Linked DNA regions of Homo sapiens. The protein of the gene in region 1 purifies or fractionates together with the protein of each later gene. This does not show direct contact. Each region holds a gene or a part of one and is shown in the gene's direction. Other genes may lie near its edges. The genes, in order: LAP3, LACTB2, MTPN, ZCCHC17, TKT, CLIC4 and MDH1.

Region 1 (4,068 bases):
CAGACCTTGAATTCCAGCTACCAGTTTGAAGATCCCCAGAGAGGAATGGGGTCAGCTTAAGAATACAGGTTCTTCAACGCCCTGTCCCATGACTTCACCCTGCACTCTTCAATCAACGATCTCCACACTATAGCCCTCTCCAAAACCCTTAAAAACCTTGACCCCAAATTCCTCAGGGAGATGGATTTGAGGTTTCCTCCCATCTCCTCCTTTGGCGACTCCACGATTACACCTCTTTCTCTGCTGCAACCCTGGTGTCTGGGCGTATTGACTTGCTATGTGCACGAGTCAACGAACCTAATAGTGTTACATCATTTTCAAAAACAGTATTTACACCGTTGCACCTGTGGAACAGATGAAAGGACACGAATAAAAATAACTCAGGCCAGGTGCGGTGGCTCACGCCTGTAATCCCAGCACTTAGCGAGGCCGAGGCAAGTGGATCACGAGGTCAGGACTTCGAGACCAGCCTGGACAACATGGTGAAACCTCGTCTCTACTAAAAATACAAAGAGTTGCCGGGCACGGTGGCTCACGCCTGTAAGTAATCCCAGCACTTTGGCAGGCTGAGGCGGGTGTATCACCAGAGGTCAGGAGTTCAAAGCCAGCCTGGCTAACATGGCCAAACACTGTCTCTACTAAAAATACAAAGATTAGCCAGGTGTGGTGGTGGGCGCCTGTAGTCCCAACTACTCGGGAGGCTGAGGCAGGAGAATCTGTTGAACCCGAAAGGCGGAGGTTGCAGTGAGCCGAGATTGCGCCACTGCACTCCAGCCAGGGCTACAAGAGCGAGACTCCGCCTCAAAAAAAAAATCCAAAAAAACAACAAAAAAACACAAAGATTAGCTGGGCGTGGTGGCGGGCGCCCCTAATCCCAGCTACTCGGGAGGACGAGGCAGGAGAATCGTTTCAACTAAGCAGCGGGAGGTTGCAGTGAGCCGAGATCGCTCCATTGCACTCCAACCTGGGTGACAGAGCGAGACTCCGACTCAAAAAAACCAAACAAACAAACGAAAACTCAGTGGGAGTGTCTTCACTATGCAGTCGTCTATTCAGCAACCTTGACAACAAGCTCTGGCACTCAGTTTCTATTTCCCGGGAGTTGCCCAGCGCTCCGCCCACGCCCGCTTGCAGAACTCGCCCCGCCTCCGCCCCACCCATCGTGTGACGTCACCATATCGGTCCCGCCCCTCTACTTCGCGTTGCTCCCGGGACTGTCAACCGCGTCCGGAAGCCCCGCCTTTTCGCCCCCGCCCGCATGCGCGGGCGCACACGAATGCGGGCGCACACGAATGCGGGCGCACACGAATGCGGGCGCACCCTTGAGTCCCCTCCACAACCGCGGTTTGATCCCAGCGGTCCAGTCGGCCGGTGCTGCCCATCCGTCCCGCCCCCTAGACGCACGTCCGCTCGCCCGGCGCCCGAGCCAGTCCGCGCGCACGCCGTCTGCGCCCCGAAAGCCCCGCCCCAAGGCGCGCCCGCCCACCGCTCTCCACGTGCTCGCTGGAGGGCGGTGCGAGGGGCCGAGCCGACAAGATGTTCTTGCTGCCTCTTCCGGCTGCGGGGCGAGTAGTCGTCCGACGTCTGGCCGTGAGACGTTTCGGGAGCCGGAGTCTCTCCACCGCAGACATGACGAAGGTGAGAGGCGGCGGCTCGCTCATGGTCCGCCGCTGGGGCCCTGCCCGTGGGCTACTGGGGCTGCGGGGCTGGTCGAAGCCGCGGTGTCCTGGGCGCCCAAGCCAAGTTGCAAAAATCAGTTTAAAAGAAAAATTCTCTCCTTGCGGGGATCGGCCTAGGCCGCTGAGGACCCCAGCGGTCGTATTGAGGGCGCGATTCCCCTGCTCGGGGCTAGGGGGTGATGGTTGTAGCCGCCCTTTACCCGGCTCCACTCGGCCGCGCACTTGCTCCAGTCGTCACCCGCGGTCCTGGCAGTAACCCGGGGAAAGACGCGGCGGTGGGGCTCCCATCCGAGCTTGGAGGAAGCCCGAGTTTGCCAAGGTGAAAGGGTTTCTGAGGTCCCAGAGTCACAGGGCTCCTTCCCCCGCGGAAGTGAAAGGTCAGGGAGTTAAGTAGCTTGGAAGGGTTTCTAGAGGAAAAGCATGCCTCTCTAGAGAAAAGGGCTTTGGGGAGAGACCCACGTTTCCCAGAATTAAGAGCATCTTCCAGAAGAAAAGTGAACTCCAAAAAATTACGAAGGTCGCTCTTCAGATGTGAAGGATCTGCAAAGGGAATGGCTCTCGGAACCAGCACAAGCTTGGGAGTCATGCCTAAGCACCAGAAAGAGATGACTGTCCCTGCAGAAGAACGTTCTAGGGGGAGCTTGAGCTCCAGTCTCCTGCAGGTATCTCAGTGGTGGAGGGACCAGTCGCCTGACCAGTGCTATCTCCAGTACTGTGCCACAGCCTACCCAGATAACAGTTGCTCAGTTGGCTCCATTGATTCCCGGGGAGTGAACAATCTTAGGGAAGTTAGAACCTGGCAGAGTTACCAATGCCAAGGAAGGCCGTTTTCTTTGGTGGAAAAGACCGAGAGGGCACTATTCTAAGTGTCTGTGTGGTTTTGTGGAAAGATCAACTGCTGGGCGGGAAGACATCTGGATTCTCACTCAGTCCTACCACACCACACAGGAGCTCCTGTCTCAAACTAGGTTTCAGTTTCCTTATCGGTCAAGGGGGATAAGGCTACTTGTTCTTTCCACCTCACAGAGTTGCCATGAGGCAGACAAAACATTTTTAAAGTCATAAATTGCCGTGCAAAAGTAAATACTAAGTATTACTAGGTTTGCTTCCTCATTTCTGGTATTTGAGACCTGAGACTTGTGAAGGAGATGAAGGGAGTGAGCCGCTAAGTGCTTAGCAGAGTGCTTCTACCCTCCCTAGGAAGTTGGTACTTCTCTTACAGCCTCTGTGTTGACCACAGTCCTTACGTGGCAACAGTCCTTACGATGGGAGGCACAGCCATTGGCTTGACTGGAACGGCATCCTAGAATATCTGGGATTTGCACTTGAGGATTGTAGGGGAGGAAAATCTTCCCTCTATCCTCCTAGGTTCTGTGGCTGGGCCTAAGAAAACTGACATAAGATGTATTAACAAGAGAAAAGGATACAGATTTTATTTACTATTTTTACGTGTACACAGGAGTCTGCAAGAGGAAAATGAAGACCTGAAGAAGCGTTGGGCCCAAAAGCTTGTATACCTTTTTAAACAAAGAACAATGCATTGTGGGGGTGTGACAAGACAAAGGGGCTTGGGTTAGTAAATTGTGGAATAATGACTAGGAAATCATATGGGGGTAACTAACAGAAGATAAGGGTGAGTTCAGTAGGTTTATTTGTACAGGTCCATTTTGGTGTTGACTTCCAGTTTCTGGTGATAAGAATGTTCTCCTTTTCCTGGTACAGGGAGATCACCTTTCTCATGGGAATTTGTGTGACCTGCTTTTAGGGAGAAAGGGAGGTCAGAGAGTACCTCTGCACCTGCTGTTTCTCAAGCGCCTTTGGCTGAAAATAACTAATGTGCCAAAGCGGTATATTTTGGAGTGGCATGTTCTGAATCCTTTCAGGGTCTATCTTGGTGACAAATAGATTTTTCTTAAACAAAACATCTTTCTGCTTTATTTGAAAGTGAAGCCGTCTCCTAGGAGTGAGCACAGAAACCCAGGGCAATGTCCAGGACGGGCAGTGATGGGTCTTGCTTTGGCAGGAATCTGAAACACTTGGGCAGGTGCACATGTAGCTGACCCCAGCACCTGCTTCTTTTTTTGCTTTCTTCTGTCCATGGGGAGGACACGGTTTGGGTGGAATTATTTGTTCCTTCTGGAATTTGGGGACTCCTGAGCCTCTCTAAGGGATCTACTCTAATTCTATTATATTTACGTTTTTTGCTTATTCCCAGGGCCTTGTTTTAGGAATCTATTCCAAAGAAAAAGAAGATGATGTGCCACAGTTCACAAGTGCAGGAGAGAATTTTGATAAATTGTTAGCTGGAAAGCTGAGAGAGACTTTGAACATGTAAGTGTTGCTTGTGGGCTCTAGTTCTTAAAGTGCCCCCAAATCGAAACAGTATTTT
Region 2 (4,070 bases), on another chromosome or scaffold:
ACAATTGTCATAACTCGATGGAACTGTCTACAGGATCTGTGTATTTTCTTTTAAGTAATTTATAACTCAACTTTTTTTATGGGAAGCTGTAGTTAACACTGGATAGTTAATACTTGGCTGATAAGAAACCGACTTGTTACAGAGAAAATGAGTCCCTTCCATCTTGGGCACAAAACGGCTCCACAAGACCAGCCTAGCTCTCTGGGCAGGCAGGTAACACTGGCAGGCAGAGGCATGCTCCTTGAATCTCACTGAGGGGGACAAGTGTTAGTGCGAGGCAGGTAGGAGCAAGGCCGCACACGCAGACTCTGTCATCTGGGCAGCTGCCCAATCCCCGTTTTTCATTTGTAACAAAAATAGTGTCCACCTCTTAATAATGTTCTGAGGATTAAGGGCGTTAAGTCGGATGTTTGTTGAAAGCACTTAGGCATAGTAGGAAGTACTAAGTAAATATGTCTTACCACTATTTATTATAAAAGATGAACAGGCTGGCCCGGCGTGGTAGCTCACGCCTGTAATCCCAGCACTTTGGGAGGCCGAGGCGGGCGGATCACGAGGTCAGGAGATCAAGACCTTCCTGGCTAACACAATGAAACCCGGTCTCTACTAAAAATACAAAAAATTAGCCGGGCGTGGTGGCGGACGCCTATAGTCCCAGCTACTCGGGAGGCCGAGGCAGGAGGATGGCGTGAACCCGGGAGGCGGGGCTTGCAGTGAGCCGAGATCGCGCCACTGCACTCCAGCCTGGGCGACAGACCGAGACTTCGTCTCAAAAAAAAAAAAAAAAAAAATGAACAGGCTACTACTACTACTACTACACACACACACACACACACACACACACACACAGAGCCACTGCCTAAAAATCTGGCAATCCTTCCTGACATTTATTACTGAATAACGAACGGTTACCAAACCTGTCTCCCAAATCACAAGACTCTTCCAGATTAAAATGTCTCTCGCCCACTTGGATCCACTCGCCTGTCTAGGACACAAACCCGTGAGGCACCAGCCCCCGTGACAGAGGCAGATTCCAGCTTCGCCTCACGCCACCTCACGCCTCGCGCCAGCCTTCCCACCACTGCCCGCGCAGCCCGCGCGGCGTCACGTGACCTCTAGTTCCGCACCGCCCCCCCCACCCCCCGGCCTAGCTGCCGGATCCCCGCCCCGGCTCGTCCGCGGTGTCACATGACACCTGGACCAGCCGCTGGCCAATCCCCTCCCTCCCGGGTTGCGAGGCATCACGTGGACGCTACTCGCTATCCCCGGCCTGTTGGCTTCTTCCGCGCTGGAGTATCCAGATAGGCGACACGCCGGCGGGCGGCTGAGGCGGGAATGGCTGCTGTACTGCAGCGCGTCGAGCGGCTGTCCAATCGAGTCGTGCGTGTGTTGGGCTGTAACCCGGGTCCCATGACCCTCCAAGGCACCAACACCTACCTAGTGGGGACCGGCCCCAGGTAAACGTCCCTCTCCAACCTCCCCAACGTTCGCAGCCGGCCCCGGAGCCCGGGCTTTGACTGATCGCGGCTGCGCGGGCAGTGGAGAGCGCCGCGTCCTGTCCCTAGCTGGGCAGCCCCGCGCCTAGCAGCCCCGTCGGGACTGCACGCAGACACTCGGATCTCGAAGCTAGCTAAAATACGACCACCCCAGGTGATAGCTCTCTAATTTAGGGAGAAATGGAAAAAAAAAAAAAAAAAAAAAAAAAAACTTCTGTTTTGAAACCCGATTTACTGTTCTTGATGTTTGAATGCCAGGGTGTGCGTGTTTAAACTGTTGAGAAAATTCGGATGTCAAGAGTCCAAGAAAGCGTTTACTTTGCTCACTTGACTTTCACTGGTGTTTTGCCCAGAGTGTAACTTCCCTTCTCAAAAGCGATTAATTATGTTGAGGCGATTTCCTCAACTCAGCAGCAGAGGGCAGGATTCTCCTGGCTTCCAAATTGGTTCTCTGCAGCCTGTGGGCTCATAAGAGGAGCTGACATAAGTAATTTGGGGAAGTTTTTTGTTACAATTGTGTGTGACCTTGTTTGAGTTTAATTTGCAGACACAGTAACACACCTGTATTTCTAAGAAGATACTTTTGCTCTTGTTTAGCTGCATTCTGTTTTAGTGGAATTATGCAGGAATGGGAGATTTGGTTTACTGCATAGTAAGTCTTAGGCATTTAGCAACTTTTGTAGTCTTTACTGGATGAACCCAGATAATGTAGTTTCTCTTGAGCATAGAATTTAATTGTGCAGTCAAGACATAAATTATTTTTAAAATATAATTGATTACTAAAAACGATTTAGTAAGTACAGTTAATTGAGTTTTCCTTGGAAGTGTCTACTGTTTGGCGTTTTTCCAGTAAATAAGAATTTTAGAAGCAGCAGACCTGCAAAGTGGGCAGGTAAAAGATTAAGTTCAGAGTAAATAAGGCAGGGTCAGGTAGTTACCAAAGGTTTAGGCTGCCACCAGAATCTAGGAGGATAGAGAATTAAGCAGGAAAAATGCCAGATCTCTAGGGTACAGTCTGTCTTGGCTGGAAGTCCCTCAACCAAGTAAATCCATAGGCGGTCTCTCTACAGTGTGTCATCTTGAACTAGTCAATACCTCAGACAAAAGATGCATATTATCAGAATTACCCTGGAAAGTCTCTTAGAAGAACACCATGTTGGAGATCAGTGTATTGTCTCAGTAAGTTCAGCACAACCTGCCTTTTTTCCAGCGTTGAAACAGATGGCTGATTCTGTTTGAAAACCAGGTGAAGAAATTGGCTTGTGTTGAGGGGCTATATTGTATGAAAAATACATACTGTATCTTTAAACACTATAATCACACTCAACATAGCAAAGTGCTAGTGCTAAGAGAGACTTAAAGACTAACTGAGGGAAAAGCAGATTTATAGTCTCTCGTCTTAAATTACTTAACACTGTTGCTCACATAAATTAATGGAGTGGAATGGCCAGTGGAATTACTTGCACTATGTAAATTATTTCTCCATATAGTTGAACTAGAGAGTCCGTATAGTTGAGCTAGAAATAAGTGTAGATAATGCTACTGTATAAAGTAAAAGGTGTAAAGTAAAAGGTGGCTAGAAGTTAATATTAATTGGCCCCTTGTCAGATGTTCTGAGATTGGTATCCACCTGTTCCGCTTCACAAAACAGTTCTAAGATCACAAGCGGCTTTTGTATCACTAACCCCAATGGTATTTTTCTGTTCTCATCTTCCTTGAACTTCAGTGCTTTGACACCATTGACGACTCCCTCCTTAATTTGCCAACACCACATTCTTCAGGTTTCCTATTACCTCTTGAGCTGCTCTTTCTCTTTCACCTTGATAGAGTCATCTTCTTTATCAAATCTTTAATTATTTTAGTTATTCAGTATATAATCCTCATCTCTCATGTTCTTCTACTGTATTCTCTACCTAGGTGATCTCATCTACTTATTTGGCTTTGCCTTTATTATCTGTTTATTATTAACTACCAAATATATAGCTCAAGTTCAAATTCCAAACTTGATCTTCAGACTCAAGTAGCCAACTTTTAAATCTATTTGCATGACTCACTGCTGCCTGGAACTCAGTGTTTTCCATACTGAACTCATAACCTTTCCAGAAAACTGCCAGGTCCTCCTTCAGTTGTTCATATCTTGATAAACAAAGCCATCAAAGGAAATGCCTAAATACCCTTCCTGACATTTATTTGCTTCCTACTGCATATCCAAGCCATTATGAAGATCTGTTCATGTCCCCTGCTGTCACTCAGTCCAAGCCAGCACAACTCTTGCTTAGGCTACTGTAATAGCCTCCTAATTGGCTTCTGTACGACTACCTCTGTCTCTCTTCAATCCAATCTTCCCTTTGTAGCCTGAGTGGTATTTTAGGAATTAAAACTGGAAGGCCTTGTGTATTCTGGCCTCCATCAGTCTTATCAGGCTCCTCTCAAACCTCTCCCACTCCAGCCATGCTGGCCTTCTAGTGTCTCAGATGAGGTTTGTGATTCCCTGTCTCAGGGCCTTCACGCATGCTTTCCTCTTTCTTCCACTCATTCCTCCCTTCTTTACCCAGCTAATCTCATTCATCCTTT
Region 3 (3,500 bases), on another chromosome or scaffold:
GTTGTACAGGCTGGTCTCAAACTCCTAGCCTCAAGCGATCTTCTGGCCTCGGCCTCCCAAAGCACTGGGATTACAGGTGTGAAAGCACTGGTTCACAGGTGTGAACCCGTTTTTCCTTTATAAATTAGTATTTTTAAAAGTCAGTAATTACACTTTTCTACCTGCCTCTGACTTCTCTATTAAAGTTCGAAGTGTGAGTATCCCTAAATCATTGGTTTTAGGTGAGTTCTTGAACTTAGAAAAGTCAGTTCACAGTCCCCAAACCACTGAAAATTGTATTTTGAAATGGAAAAGACAGTATTGAGAGAAAAATTTAGATTATTTAGAGAAAAATTTAGATTATTACATTAAATGTTTCATGTATAACTTTAAGACAATATCTGAAGCAATTTTAAAGTCTTTCAACACTACATTTGGCTTCTTGACTGACTTAAGGACCACATTTAGTTAATTCATTCATTTTTACTAGGCATCTTTCAGGTCTTAAACTCTTTAGTAGTCCTGGGATGATAGTACAGAAGTTCGACACAGTTTTCAGGAAACGTAAGCATCTATATTTAGCAGACCTGCGTGAAAAAAAATTCATACTTTTATAGTAGTATGCAAATTATAAATAACATCTCATTTTCATAAAATTCAGTTGTCCGGCTGGAAAACAAGTGAAAGCCAGAAAATAAGGTATTCATGAGCAGCTATAAGAGATATTCATAGCCCCATTTTTGATCTGGATGTTTCTTTTGGGTGACATTATTTTTGACTTTGTCTTACATTTCTGCCTTTATGTTCTCCTGTTGGAGTTAATTCTAGCCTCACCTGAATTTCAGACTGCATAAGCTCTGTTCAGACAAATTCCAAATTGAGCTGTTTTCCTCTCAAAAACTGTTTTTATTCCTATTGTGTCTCCATTTTCACTAATGGTATCATGACCCAACCATTTGTCCAAACTGGAAACTGGGAAATTTTCCTAGATTTCTGAGGGTTACCAAGACTACCTTCTTAGTCTCCCTCATCCATTCCTCACTCTCCTTTCTTCTTACTACTTTAGATCAGTTGCTGCTTCTTTCCAGCCTGGACTATATTTTCTTTCTTGACTATAAGAAAATAGTCAAGAAAGAATATATAGTCCAGGCTGGAAAGAAGCAGCAAAAATTGACCCCTTCCTGGTCAGTTTACACAGTTTAGGTGGAGGGATCTCTCAATAACATGAATATAAGCATGTAATCTTTTTCAGCCAGTCTCCTGCACTGCCCTTAAAATATTAATACTTTTGTGATTTCTCACTGCTTATTTTAAAAGGGCCAGCTCCTCATTGGTATGGTGTACTAGGCCACTATTATCTGGGCTTGCTTTTCTACACTTGCCTCTCTCTAAGCACTCTGCTCCAGACCCTGCCATCCTGTTTCTTCCTTGTAGATCTTTACATGTGTTCTTTCATCCTCCCTGACCAAGTCTGCTCACCTCAATCCCTAACCCCCAACCTGTTAAACTCCTATTTACCCTCCTAGGGTAAGTATCACCTCTAACAGAAAAACACCATACCGATGAGGAGTTGGCCCTTTTAAAATAAGCAATGAGAAATCACAAAAGTATTAATATTTTAAGGGCAGTGAGGGAGACTGGCTGAAAAAGATTGACTTCACATAGAGTGCTGCTTCTTTTACTGTTTTGCTCATCAGATTGCTGTGATTTTGTTTACATGTGTCTTCATTAGGCTCTGAACTCCTGGAGGGTAGATAATATATTCTTTTTCATCTTTCTGTCTCCAACATAGCGCCAAGGAATTTTACACATTAAAATCATGTTTCTGGTAAGAAATTCATTTTATTCTTAACTTAGCAATAATTTCAGCATACTTCATTAATTACAGAATAATAATTACCATTGACTGGATGACTTACATTGTCAGGTACTGGAAAGCACTCTGCAAGATGTTTTACCTAAGTTTTTATTTGCTTCTTACCACAGTGTTTCAGTATAAGTAATAATCTTATTTTAAGGATGAAGAACCTGAGGCTTAGAGAACTGAAGTAACTTGACAAGGTCACAAACTAAGTAGCATAACTGGATTTTAAACCCAGAACTGTCTGAATCTACATGGGGTGTGTGTGTGTGTGTGTGTGTGTGTGTGCGCGCGCGTGCGCGTGTGCGCGTGTGTATTTATAACCATATCAGTTTGCTTTAAAAGTGGTTTTTTTTTTTGCTAACAACACTTTAGAATTAAGAAAACGAGAAAGAGGCTTGTAAGAAGCCGGTACAACTAATTAGCTCTGACTGTGAATGAAGACAAAAATGGCAACCGTATTTTAAAAATTGTAAATGTAACAATTCAGAAATAATTAGTATAGAGACAAACATCTCTGTAAACTTAAACTCTCATCAGAGACTGTCATTACTCAAGACGTGTCCATAAGAGTGACTGATAGCCTGCAGAATGTTTTGTATTTATGGTCACATATAATCTAACCTTATAATTTATGTTCCTAATTGTGATCCTACACAGTCCAGAAAAAGTTAAATTTTGTTTGTTTGCCTTAGGAAGAAACAAAAATAACTAAATTATTGAGATTTCTATTCATAATTATTTAAATAAAACAAGTAACATTTTGAAAAAAGTATGTTTATTAAATTTTATGTATTTGAGGATTGTGATGCAGTATACAGGTATTATTTCATTTACTTATCAACAGTAAGCCATGAGCATTATTAATAATGTTAACCCCATTTTAGAGATTTTAGAGGCAGAGATTAAATAACTTGCTCAAGATCATAAAGTTCTTAAGTGGTGAAGCTGAGATGTGAACTCACTTCCTTGGGTTCTGAAGGAGTTTCAAAAGCCCCATGCTGTTAACTACTTCAGCATACCCTTGACCTTCATTTCTCAATAAGGCCAGAAACTAGGGGGGTACTATATTATTGAGTAAATAGTAAAAATAATCATAGCAGGATGGTAATTATCCATTGAGACTACTAAAAGGTGAGCTTTCTGGTGGATTTTGAGGATCCAACATGCTTACAGGTGAGTGCTTGTGAGTTGCATTGATAAATAGCCCCTTTTAATCTTCAGCAGGTCTGATACATGTACTCTCTTGTTTACATGTACTTCTATTTCACTTGCTGTGAAATAGAAGCCTGGTCTCTAACTTCCCTTTCTCTGTGGTTTCCTTTCCCTCCAGCCTCCATTCTAATTACATCTGCCGTTGACACTCTAATAGGTTTGAAAAGCAACAATTGTGCACCATGTGAAAGGATAGAATCTCTTGAACCTGAGAAAGATATCAACTCTAATCTTTAGAAATTCCAAGACTCATTGAGATCACTTTTCACTTTCCTAATAAAATAGCCAATTTAAAAGAGGTCCTGATTCAATCTACTTTGCATTTATTGGTTTTAGGCAGCTTCCCTTTTTTTTCTTCTTTAAATTATTAGTTTCTTTCTTATAAAAATGTATCACTGTGTGTTGCCCTTTCTACAGAAGGGCTGGTGACCTATTCAGAAAGCAT
Region 4 (3,500 bases), on another chromosome or scaffold:
CCAATGTGACAAATGTCTTCATGCTTAAAGAAGCTCTAGACCAAGTCCAGAAGGAGATCTAGTCTCTTGAAGTATTCAAAAACCTATTCTGGACTTAGGGATATCTCAACAAATCACTATGCTGAACTTACCTGGAAGAAAAACTTTTATTTTCTGCCTGGTTACTTCCACAAGCCATGGATTTTTTGAGCTACCATTTTTGTCTTTCCCTCAGAGGGACAAGAATGAGATTAAGACTGTTTCCTAAAATTCTTCTGCCACAGGGTCTACCTGTTATGCTTATTTGTATCTGCAATGTTCCTAGCACAGTACCTGGTCCATTAAAGAAGCTCAATGTTATGATGAAAACGTTGACTCTTAATTTTAGACTGGCCATCTAAATGATGTATTTAAAGTTTTTGGTGACTTTTTTTGGTCTCTTTCAGATGAAAAATGATAGAATAAAAGTATCCCTCTCCATGAAGGTTGTCAATCAAGGGACTGGGAAAGACCTTGATCCCAACAATGTTATCATTGAGTAAGTAAAAGGTTTGGAAAGGTGAAAATTCTTCTGCCTCCCAAATCATAAAATGGTTTAGTAAATCAGACTGAACTGGTAACTCTACCATTTATGGACTTTGTGATATTGATAAGTTACGTAACCTTTGCAATCTTTGGTTTTTAGAAATGTAAAATGAAGTTAGACCAGGCGTGGTGGCTCACGCCTGTAATCCCAACACTTTGGGAAGCCGAGGTGGGCGGATCACCTAAGAGGTCAGGAGTTTGAGACCAGCCTGGCCAACATGGCGAAACCCCGTCTCTACTAAAAATACAAAACTAGAAATTTGCTGGATGTGGTAGTGCGTGCCTCTAGTCCCAGCTACTCGGGAGACTGAGTCATGCACTAGAGTCTCTTGAACCCAGGAGGCAGAGGTTGCAGTGAGCTGAGATCATGCCACTGCACTCCAGCCTGGATGACAGAGTGAGACTCGGTCTCAAAAAATAAAATAAAGTAATAAAATAAAAATAGTTAACACCTTGCTGCATAGAGTTCTAAGATGAAACGTTAACGTACCAAGCTCCTGGCATTGGAGTGCTCCATCAATGGTTTTGTTTCCTTTCCCTTAATCTCTTTCTGTTTCTGCCCTTTAACGAGTTAGCTAATAAGCATTCATGAAGAACTATTCTTTACCTCTCTCCCAGTGATTTCTGCAGGTGGGGTTACGTGGGTCTCTTCCACATAGAGACCACGTGGAAGGGTAGAGTAATCCAGGAACAACTCCAGCGGGGTTTAGACTCCCACATCTTGGGATACACTGTGCTCTGAAAACAACATCTTACTTTCGTTGGCTCTTCTGACCTTTCATTTAGGAATGGGAAATTATCTATGTAGGACAATGTCTGGCAATACAAGGAATGTTCTGTCTGTCTCAAGTCTTTCTTGGATTTCTTTTTTTTTTTTTTTTTTTTTTTTGAGATGGGGTCGCCCAGGTTGGAGTGCAGTGCCATAATCACGGCTTACTGCAGTCTTGACCTCCCAAGCCCAAGCTATCCTCCCACCTCAGCCTACCGAGTAGCTGGGACTACAGGCATGCGCCACCACACCTAATTTTTATTTTGTAGAGACAGGGTCTCCCTATGTTGCCCAGGTTGTTCTTGGACACCTAGGCTCAAGCGATCCTCCCACCTTGGTCTCCTAAGTGCTGGGATTACAATTGTTAGCCACCATGCCCAGGCTTCTTTCTTAAATTTCTCATCGGAGGTTCTTGGATCCCTAAAGTCTCTTAAAGGGGGATCTTGGAGGGTTTTTTTTTTTTTTTTTTTTGAGACAAGTTTCACTCTTGTTGCCCAGGCCGGAGTGCAATGGCACAATCTCGGCTCACCGCAACCTCCGCCTCCCAGGTTCAAGTGATTCTCCTGCCTCAGCCTCCACAGTAGCTGGGATTACAGGCATGTGCCACCATGCCCGGCTAATTTTGTATTTTTAGTAGAGATGGGGTTTCTCTATGTTGGTCGGGCTGGTCTTGAACTCCCGACCTCAGGTGATCTGCCCGTCTCGGCCTCCCAAAGTGCTGGGATTACAGGCGCGAGCCACCGCGCCCGGCCCTTGGAGGGTTTATTAACTGTTTTTAGTGTTTTAGAAAGCCATCCAAAATTCTATGTGTGTCCTCAGGTTAACCATGCTGTTATTTTGTTGCTTTTGATGATAAAATATCACATTGTTTGTCTTATGTTAATTAGGTACGCTCAATGACAATTATGTCATTGATGAATTTAAAAGACAAGAAAAATGATAGAATGTTATTTGAGTGGGATCTTATTGGTGAAAAGTTTGGAAAGCCTTATGTTTATAGTTCTGAGCAAAATCACTTTGAATTTGAAGGAATTTTATCTGGAAGTAAGGGAAATGTTATTGAATACATACTGCAGTGCCAGGCATTTTATGTACATTCTTGGGTACATAACAACCTGCAAAGTGGATGTTATCTCCATTTTACCTTATATTCCTACTTTATAGCTTGGTGCCTGGTGATAAGTAACTTACCTGTGGTTACATAGAAAATTATCAGGGACTCAAAACTCAGTCTCTCTGACCTTAAAGCTAATGCCCTTTTCACCACAAAATGCTTCTCACTCTTGCATGTGACTTACAGAACTTTTCATATTTCTGTGGTTTAGTCTCTAAATATTAACATGTTTGTAAGGCTGATTATTGACAAAATACTGTCAGTAATAGTAGGAATCTTTTATAACTCAGAGTGCAGAAGTGTTTAAATCTGGCTGTGGTTCAAGTTAGTGTTGGGAAAAGGAAAAAGAAAAAATTCTGATGATTGCATTGTAATAAATAGCTTCTGCTCCAAAAAATCCAATGCTATATGGACTCATTAAAAAATAGTGAAATTTCCCAAAGCCACCCTTACAGTGATAAAATATAAAACATGTAAGATAAAAGAGCTAACCCTGTTTCTCAGAAAATGGGTAGGGAAGGGAAAGGGCTCCCTGGTTTTGGGCTGTCTCTGTGTAGAACTATTTTTAGTAATAATCAAGTGGCTGAAACAGTAACTTTTGTTGTAAATTATGTCTATAGCTGCATCCAGGAAGGAAGCATGGCATAATGGAATGATTAGAGGATTTAGAGCTAGACTTGAATCAGAAAGAGTACTGGTTCTGCTCCAAACTAATATATGACTTTGAGCAGATTAATTAGTCTATCTGAATCTTAGCTTCTTTACTATAAAAGGAGACAGTAACATATATCTAAGGAATGCTTGAGTGATTTAAGTAAAATCTTATTTGTAAGGAGCCAGCTTCATGTCTAGTCTATGGTAGACATACATGTAGCTACTTGTAGTTATTGTTTTAAATGCCGCTTTGTTTTATCCTCTAATATCTGAGATTATAGCACCTTTTCTTTTTTCCTCATACTATGGTGTACGGAACCACACCTTTGCTTTTGAAAGAGTGTGTGTGTAAGACCCACAAAAACAGAGACCATGACTTGTCTGCCATTGTGCCTGATG
Region 5 (3,500 bases), on another chromosome or scaffold:
CATTGGGTGACCCTGGAAGCCCTGTTCTGGGCCTTGGGTTCCCCTTCTGATGGCCAGGGTCCCTTCCAACCCAGTCGACAAACTGAGTATTTCTGCAGCAGACACCTCTACCTGTGTGTGACCCTGCAGGCGGGGTTGTGGGGAGGAAGAGAATGGACACATTGGTGAAGGGATGGGGCAGTGGGCCCAGAAACACACACCTGCCCACGTCTGGCCCCTCCTTTCCCACTCAGCTGTGAGCTCCCAAAGGACCAGGCAGTAGACAGTGAGTGGTGGGCACGTAGGAGTCCATCCTATTCACTGCGACCCTCCTTTCCTGGCCCCCGTGCCTGGCTGGGCTCTGCCTGTCTGGGATGATGCCATTCCTCCCTTGCCCTCGGCAGGTAGAGGGCCAGTCTCCTGGAGCAGCCTCCTGGCCCTCTGGGAGCTTCTGTCTTACCCATTCCTCTGTCCTCCCGTGTTGGGTCTGCAGGGGTAGAAGATAAGGAGTCTTGGCATGGGAAGCCCCTCCCCAAAAACATGGCTGAGCAGATCATCCAGGAGATCTACAGCCAGATCCAGAGCAAAAAGAAGATCCTGGCAACCCCTCCACAGGAGGACGCACCCTCAGTGGACATTGCCAACATCCGCATGCCCAGCCTGCCCAGCTACAAAGTTGGGGACAAGGTACAAAGTGGGGCCTGTTTCTCTGAACCCATAGTTCTCAGGTTTCCCAAGTCTGTGGCCCAGATACACCCTCTGGAGGGCTGGGAAAGGGAGGAGAGCGATTCATTTAGGGCGAGGAGTGATCCCTGAGGTGTTGTTCCTGTCACTTCCCTCAGAATGACAGACATCTCTGGAGTTGACCTGCAGAGGCTCAGACCGGGCAAGGGAATTGCCCACTTAGCAAGCTTAGCAAGCTACTGACAGAACTGAGATCAAAGCCAAGGACTCACTCCCAAGTTCTTGCATCGCTGGTCCACGAGGGACCCTTGGCCTGAGCTCAGGACCCCCACCTGACCTGGGAAAGGCTAGGCAGAGCTGTCCCACTCCAGGTTTCTGTCCCAAGGGAACCCATCCATGCAGCCTGTGCCTGGCCTTGACTCCCAAGCCTTCTGTGTTCCCATGCAAAGTGGAATAGGTTCATGGACCTGGTGCAGCAGGCGGGAAGTTGGGGCTGGTGGGTGTCTTCTGTAGCTTATACCTTTCACAGCCAGAAGGGGCCGGGGCTCCAGGGGCTCCCAAGACATTGACCGTAGTCGTTGGCAACCTTTCAGCAGTTAAAAGCCTCTGCAGGACCTTGTGCTCCAGGGCTTCCATTTTTGGCCCCGTTTTAATCCTTCTCTGAAAGCAGGGCTCCAGGCTGCAGGTGTGCACTCACCCTCAGAGGGGTCCAGAGCCTTCCCACTCTCTTCCTCACAGATAGCCACCCGCAAGGCCTACGGGCAGGCACTGGCCAAGCTGGGCCATGCCAGTGACCGCATCATCGCCCTGGATGGGGACACCAAAAATTCCACCTTCTCGGAGATCTTCAAAAAGGAGCACCCGGACCGCTTCATCGAGTGCTACATTGCTGAGCAGAACATGGTAGGTGCTGGGGCCGGCAGGGACAGGTCCACCCAAGGCTGAGGGCTGTGGTCTGAGGGGTGCGGGGCAGCCATGTTGGCAGAGCCAGGTGCCTGCTGTAGGCCAGCCCAGGGAGACTATAAGAAAAGCCAGGACCCAGCGTTAACCCCTGACCTTGAACAGCCACAGTTTGGGAGGTTCTGCCCAGGTGCAAATGTCCTGGACAGGTGTGCACATGGGGGAGCCGAATGGGACTGCAGGTGCTCTCAGGAGGAGCTGCGTACAGGCCAGGCCTGGTGGTGAATGGGGTCTCTTCCAGGTGGAGGACAGGCCTGGCCAGTAGGTGGGGCCGTGATGGGTTTAGCAGCCCGAGTCTGTAGAGCACCTGTAATGCACACGGCTCTGGGCCCTGCCACCCTGAGGGATGCAGAGATGAGGGAACTCTGGGCCCCTGACATGTACCCATTTGGGGAAGCAGACCCTTGTCAGGAACTGAGGTTGTGAAGTAAGGAACAATGTTTTGTCCATGTTTTCAAAATATCCCCTCCTGGTGGTCCAGGAGCCCAGCCTGGCTTGCAGGCCCCTAGGGACAGGGAGCTTCCTCTCTCTGGAGGGCACTCAGATCTCCAGAGTTCTTCCAACTGGACCTGAAATTCTCTCTGTGGTTTCCAGAGACTGCTCTGCAGGGCGTGGGGCTGGGGAGGTCCCAGGTACTAGGGAAAGAGGCCTTGTGTTGGCTGGCAGATTTTGGAGCCTTGAAGGGCAGCTGGTTTGGAACTGATGACTGTACTCAGTGCTGCTTCTGGATGAGTGATTTGGGGCCTGGAGCCTCAGCAGGCATGAGGCTGCTGCCCTCGGACCCCAGGGAGGGGTTGGGAGGACCGGTCTCTGCAGAAGAAGGTGGTGGGGGACATATTCAGAAGCCCAGAAAGGATGGACAATCTATATACAAATTGTGGCTTTCTCCACAAAAGGGGTCCTAGGCTCCCCGACCACCCTCTGCCTGCCCCTTTGGGCTGACCCTGTCCCACCTGCCCCCAGGTGAGCATCGCGGTGGGCTGTGCCACCCGCAACAGGACGGTGCCCTTCTGCAGCACTTTTGCAGCCTTCTTCACGCGGGCCTTTGACCAGATTCGCATGGCCGCCATCTCCGAGAGCAACATCAACCTCTGCGGCTCCCACTGCGGCGTTTCCATCGGTGAGTTTAGCCAGGGTGTTTACACCTGGAGCTCCCTTGACTTTTGCACCAGGAGGTATGGGAGGGGGATGGGCCAGGATTCCAGCCCATGGATGGGGGGGTAGGGGTCTTATTTCTGCATATCCTTTCCCCCACACCCCAGGGGAAGACGGGCCCTCCCAGATGGCCCTAGAAGATCTGGCTATGTTTCGGTCAGTCCCCACATCAACTGTCTTTTACCCAAGTGATGGCGTTGCTACAGAGAAGGCAGTGGAACTAGCCGCCAATACAAAGGTAGGTTGCATGGCTGTTCTTTCTCCTGCTGGCAGCCATCACTTCCCAAGGGAAACAGAAGAGGAGGCCAGAGCTGGTCACTTGCTGCCCCAGGGGGTGTTTCCTGACCTTGCCCCTGGTGTTCGTGTAGCTTGTGGAAGTTAGACAAGAAAAAACGAAATACACACCCCACTTACTGCCACGTGGCAGACATTGTCAACTGATTGCCAGTCTGTCTCTGCTGAGAATCCTGGCAGCCCTGGCCGGTCCAGCGGTTGACACCTCTCCACCCTCCTGAGTTGGGTTCTCCAAGACAGGCAAGGATGAGCTGAGCCCTGTGGTCCAGGCCCGGAGCTGCATGCCACAGACCCAGTGCGCGTGGTTCCTGCCCCTCTGCCTGGTGCAGTCTGTGGGAGTAGCCCACCTGCAGCCAGTCTACCTGGTGGAAAGTTGCCTTCGGTCTGAGGCTGCAAGGTGGTGGGCAGTTCTCAGAGTGTTCAAGTGG
Region 6 (2,687 bases), on another chromosome or scaffold:
CCGCCACCACGCCCGGCTAATTTTTTGTATTTTTAGTAGAGACGAGGTTTCACCGTGTTAGCCAGGATGGTCTCGATCTCCTGACCTCGTGATCTGCCTGCCTCGGCCTCCCAAAGTGCTGGGATTACAGGCGTGAGCCACCGCGCCCGGCCATTTGTTAGCAAGTTTTTACAAATACCACTGCCTGACATTATTATGCTTATTTATACTTTTACCTGAACAAACTTGTTTCATCCCCTGCCCCACCTAATTGAGCTCTAGGAGAGCAGGAGCCTTGTCTGTTTTGTTCTACAGTACCTTGTTTCAGAGTAAACATTTTTAAACAGTTATTGACTCAAAGAGTCTGCTTCTCCTTGGGGACTTGAGTGGTTTTCCTTCTTACAGTATTCTCATCTCTTTTTTTCCCCCCCAAGCACTGGAGAGGGGTCTCCTGAAAACCCTGCAGAAACTGGATGAATATCTGAATTCTCCTCTCCCTGATGAAATTGATGAAAATAGTATGGAGGACATAAAGTTTTCTACACGTAAATTTCTGGATGGCAATGAAATGACATTAGCTGATTGCAACCTGCTGCCCAAACTGCATATTGTCAAGGTAGGTCTGTAGGGGTTGATGTCGCATTGCCATTACCTTGTATTGTATTTACTAAAGTGGCATTTCCTTTGTGCTCAAAACATTTCTGATTTTATATGACTAGTTGTTTAACTCAATGCTGTTTAGGCAATAGTTGAAGCACCCTAGAGTTAGTTAAATGGAAAATTATGTCTTAAAATTGAGGAATATAAGAAAGATGAATATTTTTTTTTCTGTGACTGCATACAAATTCAAAGATATAATGCGTGACTTTGAATTGGAGTTTGCCACACTGACTTATGTTATCAAATTCTGTTCTGTGATCACACCTTGCTTTCTCTATTGAAGGCAAAAAGTATTGAGCATTTATTATATGAGACACTGGGCTGGGCACATTGTTAAATAGAATAATAATAAGCGCTAGTTGTAAATAAAGACCTAAGATAACAAAAACAGATCTAAAATAGCATATGTGTGTTGTGAAGTATTTTCCAGTGATTATACTTGGCTGTCTTTCTGGATGTCCAAGGCAGTTATTTGCAGTCACTGTCACACTTCTAAATCCCTGGTGTAGCTTGCAGTCTTGGTCATTATTTAAAACTCTGGTTAGAATGATGGTGATGGACTTTTTTTCATATAGAAGCAGTTCTCAAAGATTTAGAGCATTAATTATTTGCTCCAAAATCAGAGATATGTCTAGTTTACAAGACGTGGAAATAAGTCTGTTAACTTTTGATCTCTTTGTATTTCAGGTGGTGGCCAAAAAATATCGCAACTTTGATATTCCAAAAGAAATGACTGGCATCTGGAGATACCTAACTAATGCATACAGTAGGGACGAGTTCACCAATACCTGTCCCAGTGATAAGGAGGTTGAAATAGCATATAGTGATGTAGCCAAAAGACTCACCAAGTAAAATCGCGTTTGTAAAAGAGATGTCTTCATGTCTTCCCCTAAGAATACGCTTTTCCTAACAGGCTACTCCTTCCTGTAGAGCAGAAATTGTATTTTGCACGAACATGCAGTTATTGAAGATTAGGATCAAGGATAGACAAGGTATAGTAGTTATCTTAAAATATACACTCCTAAGCAGTATTATTTTAAAATCCTTTACCCTGGCTACCTCCCCTACCCGGGTTCCCCTCTCTTTAATTTGGAGACACTCCACCACAAACTTTTCACTTTAGAGGTAGCTTGCCATCTCTCAGGAGCCCTCACCATTGTGTCCATTCACTGTGTATAGATGGCAGAACTTTTGAGGTGCAATGTTTAATTGTTAAAAATAGTAGCCACGACTTTATCAGGCAGCCCCAAACTGGTGCATAATGCATGGTACAAGAAATATTTATGTATTTTTTGGAATTTTGTAATATTTAGTAAGAGTATATGAAAGGATTGCTACTGTATCAGAAATATTGTTTCAATTTAGTCTATCCTGGATATGTACTAACGAATATTACCACCAGAGAAGAGAGCTTTCTACAAAAGTCACTACAGATTTTGCTATATTGCTTTGTAGATAGATTTTTACTTTTGCCTAAAAGCATTTATCCTTCATACCAATTGTAACATCTGACACCATGTAGAAGCTAAAAGTTTAGAGGGAGTGAGGGTTTTCTCAAGACCTTCCTCAAGCATTTTATCTTTAGAAGAGAAACTGATGGGCACCTGATACTCTGTCTAAATACGTTTGTTATATGTGTTTTGCCCTGTGCCATTCATTTGGAACTTTATTGCATTCTTTATTTTAAAAAGCTTGTTTTTACGTAATCATAGAGCTTGCTATTTGTACATCTGTTGAGCAACACTACATAACTGATTTTTAGTTGACTTAGCTATAGCAGTACAATGATTAGTAATGTAAAAATTAACACAGAAATTAACCTAAGGAATGAAGGGTGGGTTTGTCAAAATATCAAGTAAATTTTTGTTTCTAAAGTACATTTAATGTAGATGACCTAAAGAATGCGTTATCCATCCTATATAAAAGAAAGATAAAACACAGGTCACCAATTTTCTCATTTCACCCCATTTACCTTGTATAGAGGATTGTTCATTCCTTTGGGACTAAGTTATAGTTATGGTGAGTGTGTATTTACTGTAGTTTTGCCT
Region 7 (3,500 bases), on another chromosome or scaffold:
GTGTCCTGGACGGTGTCCTAATGGAACTGCAAGACTGTGCCCTTCCCCTCCTGAAAGGTGGGTTGGGGAGTAGAGAAGGGATTTTATGGTATTTGATTTCTTACAAAATACAGGTTTTAGGTTTTTGTTAAAGGCTCTCAATTAGAAATTATTTCATAAGAGGATTTTTTTATTTTGAACTACCACTGTTTATTAACTACTTATGTATACCAAGGATAAATAAGGGTAAGAAATGAGCAACAATCAATGTCAGGTAAAGGACTATCCTTTTTTCCCCAATGTGTGTGTGTATATAATTTATTATACCAGTTAAGTGTAATATTGCACAAGGGTTATACACCTGAAATTGTCTACACACACACACATTATAGACAACGTAGGAATTGTCTACATTGTGTTGTTATGGAGTCTGCTTAACTGGTAATAGTAGCATCCTGTAATGGAAAACTTTCTCAGTTTTGAAGGATGTCCTTCATAGCTATACATTGCTCTGGAAGTTGGTTGGTTCCTCTTACACGGTCCCCATCCCATCTACCAATCATCAGGTTGAGACATAGTGTAAATTGTCCTTACCATATGCTCTATAGTTTGAAAAAACCCAGAAGAGCTCAGCTAAGGGCCTTTGCAAATCATTGAACTATAACACAGATATAATAAGGAAGCCTTAAATTTGATCGAAAAGTTTATTAAAATATTCTAAATTAATTTAAATATTTTTCTTCAGCTATTTCTTCATCATAGTCTTTCTTTTGGTAAGGATTAATTAATGATACTCTCCTAGAAGTTTGCACAAAGCAAAATAATACATACCTTCCAAGAAAAACTTTCCTTAAAATTCTTCATCTGTTGAATAAACATTTGCTAGAAGGGATACTCTGCCATCTAAGTCTTTTGGTTGCAAAGTTCTGTGGAAGAATACATGACTGCCCACACTATTCTGTTGGTTCCCTTTTCTCACCCACAGCTCTTTCCAAATCAGCTTTGCTGCTTTTTCCCATTTGTATTCCTTTCTCTGCTGAGTTCCCTGTGCTTTTTCTCTAAAGGGCCCAGATTGCTGTTGGTTTGTCCTCTGCCAGATATGAATATGACAGGGAAGGGAAAGTTCAGCAAATAAGGACATGTGACTGGGAAAGAGGAAGATAATTTTTTTTTCTCCAACTGGTGTTCCTGTCTATGCCCATTTTCAGACTTATGGCAGCCTTGACTATGATGCAACTAGCCAATTTTCCAGTGAAAATGCTGAATGTTGGTCATAGCTTTTTTAATACAATCAACAAAGAAGTGCGATGACTTATGTTCTTTAGTCAAAAAGCAAGTGATGTTTGCTTATTGTACTAGCACTGGAGCATAGTGGTTGAACTCTGGACCAACCTAGGCTGGAATTACAGCTCCATTATCTTTTGATGGTGGCGAGTTAATCTCTTTAAACCTCAGTGTCTCCATCTATAAAATCAGAAGATTAAATTTGATAGTAATATAAATCTCTTAGCATTATCCTGGCACAAAACTCCTCAATAAACATTTATTATTTTTAAATTTGTGATTGGTGTCTTAGACCTTAAAGTAATTGTAATTTAAAGGTTAGGTGAATTAGTTGCTCTTTTGTGTTGTGTGGTAATTAGTGTGAATAACAAGTGTCACTTCAAAAGTCATCATTATACCTTGCATCATATATGATTATAAAAGATAAAAGCTATGGAGTTTTGACATTTAAGTAATTATTGAAACAGGAAAAGCAAAATAAATCTATTGACATTTCTAATGTTATGATTGTTAAATTAATATATTATCTTTCTCAGGCTCCTGAAATGTATATCAGTGTGATATGTAAACACTTGCAACAAGTGAAAGAATTAATGGGTAGATTCAATATGAAAAAGAAAACTTCAAACTTTGATGTTTAAGTAGCTCTGCGTATTTATTGCCATGTCCACAGATGTCATCGCAACAGATAAAGAAGACGTTGCCTTCAAAGACCTGGATGTGGCCATTCTTGTGGGCTCCATGCCAAGAAGGGAAGGCATGGAGAGAAAAGATTTACTGAAAGCAAATGTGAAAATCTTCAAATCCCAGGGTGCAGCCTTAGATAAATACGCCAAGAAGTCAGTTAAGGTGACCAATGCTGTATTTTATGGGATTTTTCATTATTAGCATTTGAAACTTATGCTTTTAGCATTTAAGCAAAACCAAAATTATTTGCCCTTTTTTCTAGTTCTGTACAATCATCAGTAAATACGGCTCTAGAGTTTTGCTTGATAAGCTCTCCCTTTCTGGGTTTTTTCTTACAGTATAGAAATCTATATTCAGAGTGCTCAAAAATATTTTTCCTATTAGTATAACGTGAAAATTTAGTATTAGTTCTTAAACATATAGAGAAGGCACAGGATCTTCTGGTGCATTTTTGCTGCGTGGGAATATTTATTTAGACATTTAAATTTGTGTGTGATTGTGAAAGGAGATAGCTAGCTGTAAGGTAAGTTTATTCTCAGGAATAGAAGATAGTGGTTTCTGAATGCTCAGATTTTCTTAATGCAGAGGAATTTTAATATGCTTGTCTCTTGAAGAATTGAGTCAGTATGACTTATAGTTCTCTCTTTGTGTTCAAACTATTTACTTTAGATTCTAATATGTCTTAATATTACAGTAAGCCTTTTTTATTTTTTATTAATTTTTTTAATTTTTTTGAGACGGAGTCTTGCTCTGTCACCCAGGCTGGAGTGCAGTGGTGCAATCTTGGCTCACTGCAACCTCTGCCTCCCGGGTTCAAGCGATTCTCCTGTCTCAGCCTCGTGAGTAGATGGGACTACCGTTGCACGCCACCACACCCAGCTAATTTTTGTATTTTTAGTAGAGACGGGATTTCACCATGTTGGCCAGGCTGGTCTCGAACTCCTGACCTCAGGTGATCCACCTGTCTTGGCCTCCCAAAGTGCTGGGATTACAGGTGTGAGCCACCACGCCCAGCCAAACCTTCTTTTATTAGTGAACTATCAATTAACTAGAACTTAATTGTCACCCAGCAAATAGGCTTGCCGGTTAAAGGTTTAACTGATTTCCATATACTTTCCTATCTTTCAAAAAAAGGTGAAAGAAAATTTTTTAAGATTTTTTAAGTTGCCCATTATAATGTTCTATCAATAACATTTCATAGATATCTGCATTTTTTGCTTTCTGTGCACTTCATTTTAAATAGTTAACTTATTTTCTGTCATCACAGAAAATAGTATAAATGAGTTTAATAGAAATCCACAGGTGCCAGTAAAAGATTAGAAGATTGTTCAGACTGCTAAATTGCAGGCTATTTGGAGGTAAAGTACTCCTTGCACAGTAATTCCACTTCTTCAAAGCGTCCTTGTTCGTGAGAAATATTTGCCAGCACTGCACTACTTAGAGACAATGAAGTATCTTGTCTACAGCTTGTCAAAAGAGGTACCAAAAAAAAAAAAAAAAAAGATATATGGGAGTCAGTCTCTGTAATATGGTTGTAACTTTTCTATAAA

The links.
Region 2: the proteins of LAP3 (region 1) and LACTB2 fractionate together in Homo sapiens (co-fractionation; one large-scale study listed by BioGRID). This does not show direct contact.
Region 3: the proteins of LAP3 (region 1) and MTPN fractionate together in Homo sapiens (co-fractionation; one large-scale study listed by BioGRID). This does not show direct contact.
Region 4: the proteins of LAP3 (region 1) and ZCCHC17 purify together in Homo sapiens (affinity purification with mass spectrometry; one large-scale study listed by BioGRID and IntAct). This does not show direct contact.
Region 5: the proteins of LAP3 (region 1) and TKT fractionate together in Homo sapiens (co-fractionation; one large-scale study listed by BioGRID). This does not show direct contact.
Region 6: the proteins of LAP3 (region 1) and CLIC4 fractionate together in Homo sapiens (co-fractionation; one large-scale study listed by BioGRID). This does not show direct contact.
Region 7: the proteins of LAP3 (region 1) and MDH1 fractionate together in Homo sapiens (co-fractionation; one large-scale study listed by BioGRID). This does not show direct contact.

The regions. Positions count from the first base shown.
Region 1 is NC_000004.12:17,575,930-17,579,997, forward strand, and holds the start of LAP3 (cytosol aminopeptidase), read left to right. Parts: upstream 1-1,268; 5' UTR 1,269-1,536; coding exon 1,537-1,638; intron 1,639-3,894; coding exon 3,895-4,010; intron 4,011-4,068. UniProt on the Homo sapiens protein: Cytosolic metallopeptidase that catalyzes the removal of unsubstituted N-terminal hydrophobic amino acids from various peptides.
Region 2 is NC_000008.11:70,666,386-70,670,455, reverse strand, and holds the start of LACTB2 (endoribonuclease LACTB2), read left to right. Parts: upstream 1-1,270; 5' UTR 1,271-1,335; coding exon 1,336-1,457; intron 1,458-4,070.
Region 3 is NC_000007.14:135,970,860-135,974,359, reverse strand, and holds part of MTPN (myotrophin), read left to right. Parts: intron 1-3,500. UniProt on the Homo sapiens protein: Promotes dimerization of NF-kappa-B subunits and regulates NF-kappa-B transcription factor activity. Plays a role in the regulation of the growth of actin filaments.
Region 4 is NC_000001.11:31,338,532-31,342,031, forward strand, and holds part of ZCCHC17 (zinc finger CCHC domain-containing protein 17), read left to right. Parts: intron 1-425; coding exon 426-517; intron 518-3,500.
Region 5 is NC_000003.12:53,228,523-53,232,022, reverse strand, and holds part of TKT (transketolase), read left to right. Parts: intron 1-472; coding exon 473-666; intron 667-1,401; coding exon 1,402-1,566; intron 1,567-2,586; coding exon 2,587-2,743; intron 2,744-2,885; coding exon 2,886-3,016; intron 3,017-3,500. UniProt on the Homo sapiens protein: Catalyzes the transfer of a two-carbon ketol group from a ketose donor to an aldose acceptor, via a covalent intermediate with the cofactor thiamine pyrophosphate.
Region 6 is NC_000001.11:24,839,447-24,842,133, forward strand, and holds part of CLIC4 (chloride intracellular channel protein 4), read left to right. Parts: intron 1-413; coding exon 414-595; intron 596-1,326; coding exon 1,327-1,491; 3' UTR 1,492-2,687. UniProt on the Homo sapiens protein: In the soluble state, catalyzes glutaredoxin-like thiol disulfide exchange reactions with reduced glutathione as electron donor. Can insert into membranes and form voltage-dependent multi-ion conductive channels.
Region 7 is NC_000002.12:63,595,463-63,598,962, forward strand, and holds part of MDH1 (malate dehydrogenase, cytoplasmic), read left to right. Parts: coding exon 1-57; intron 58-1,936; coding exon 1,937-2,112; intron 2,113-3,500. UniProt on the Homo sapiens protein: Catalyzes the reduction of aromatic alpha-keto acids in the presence of NADH. Plays essential roles in the malate-aspartate shuttle and the tricarboxylic acid cycle, important in mitochondrial NADH supply for oxidative phosphorylation.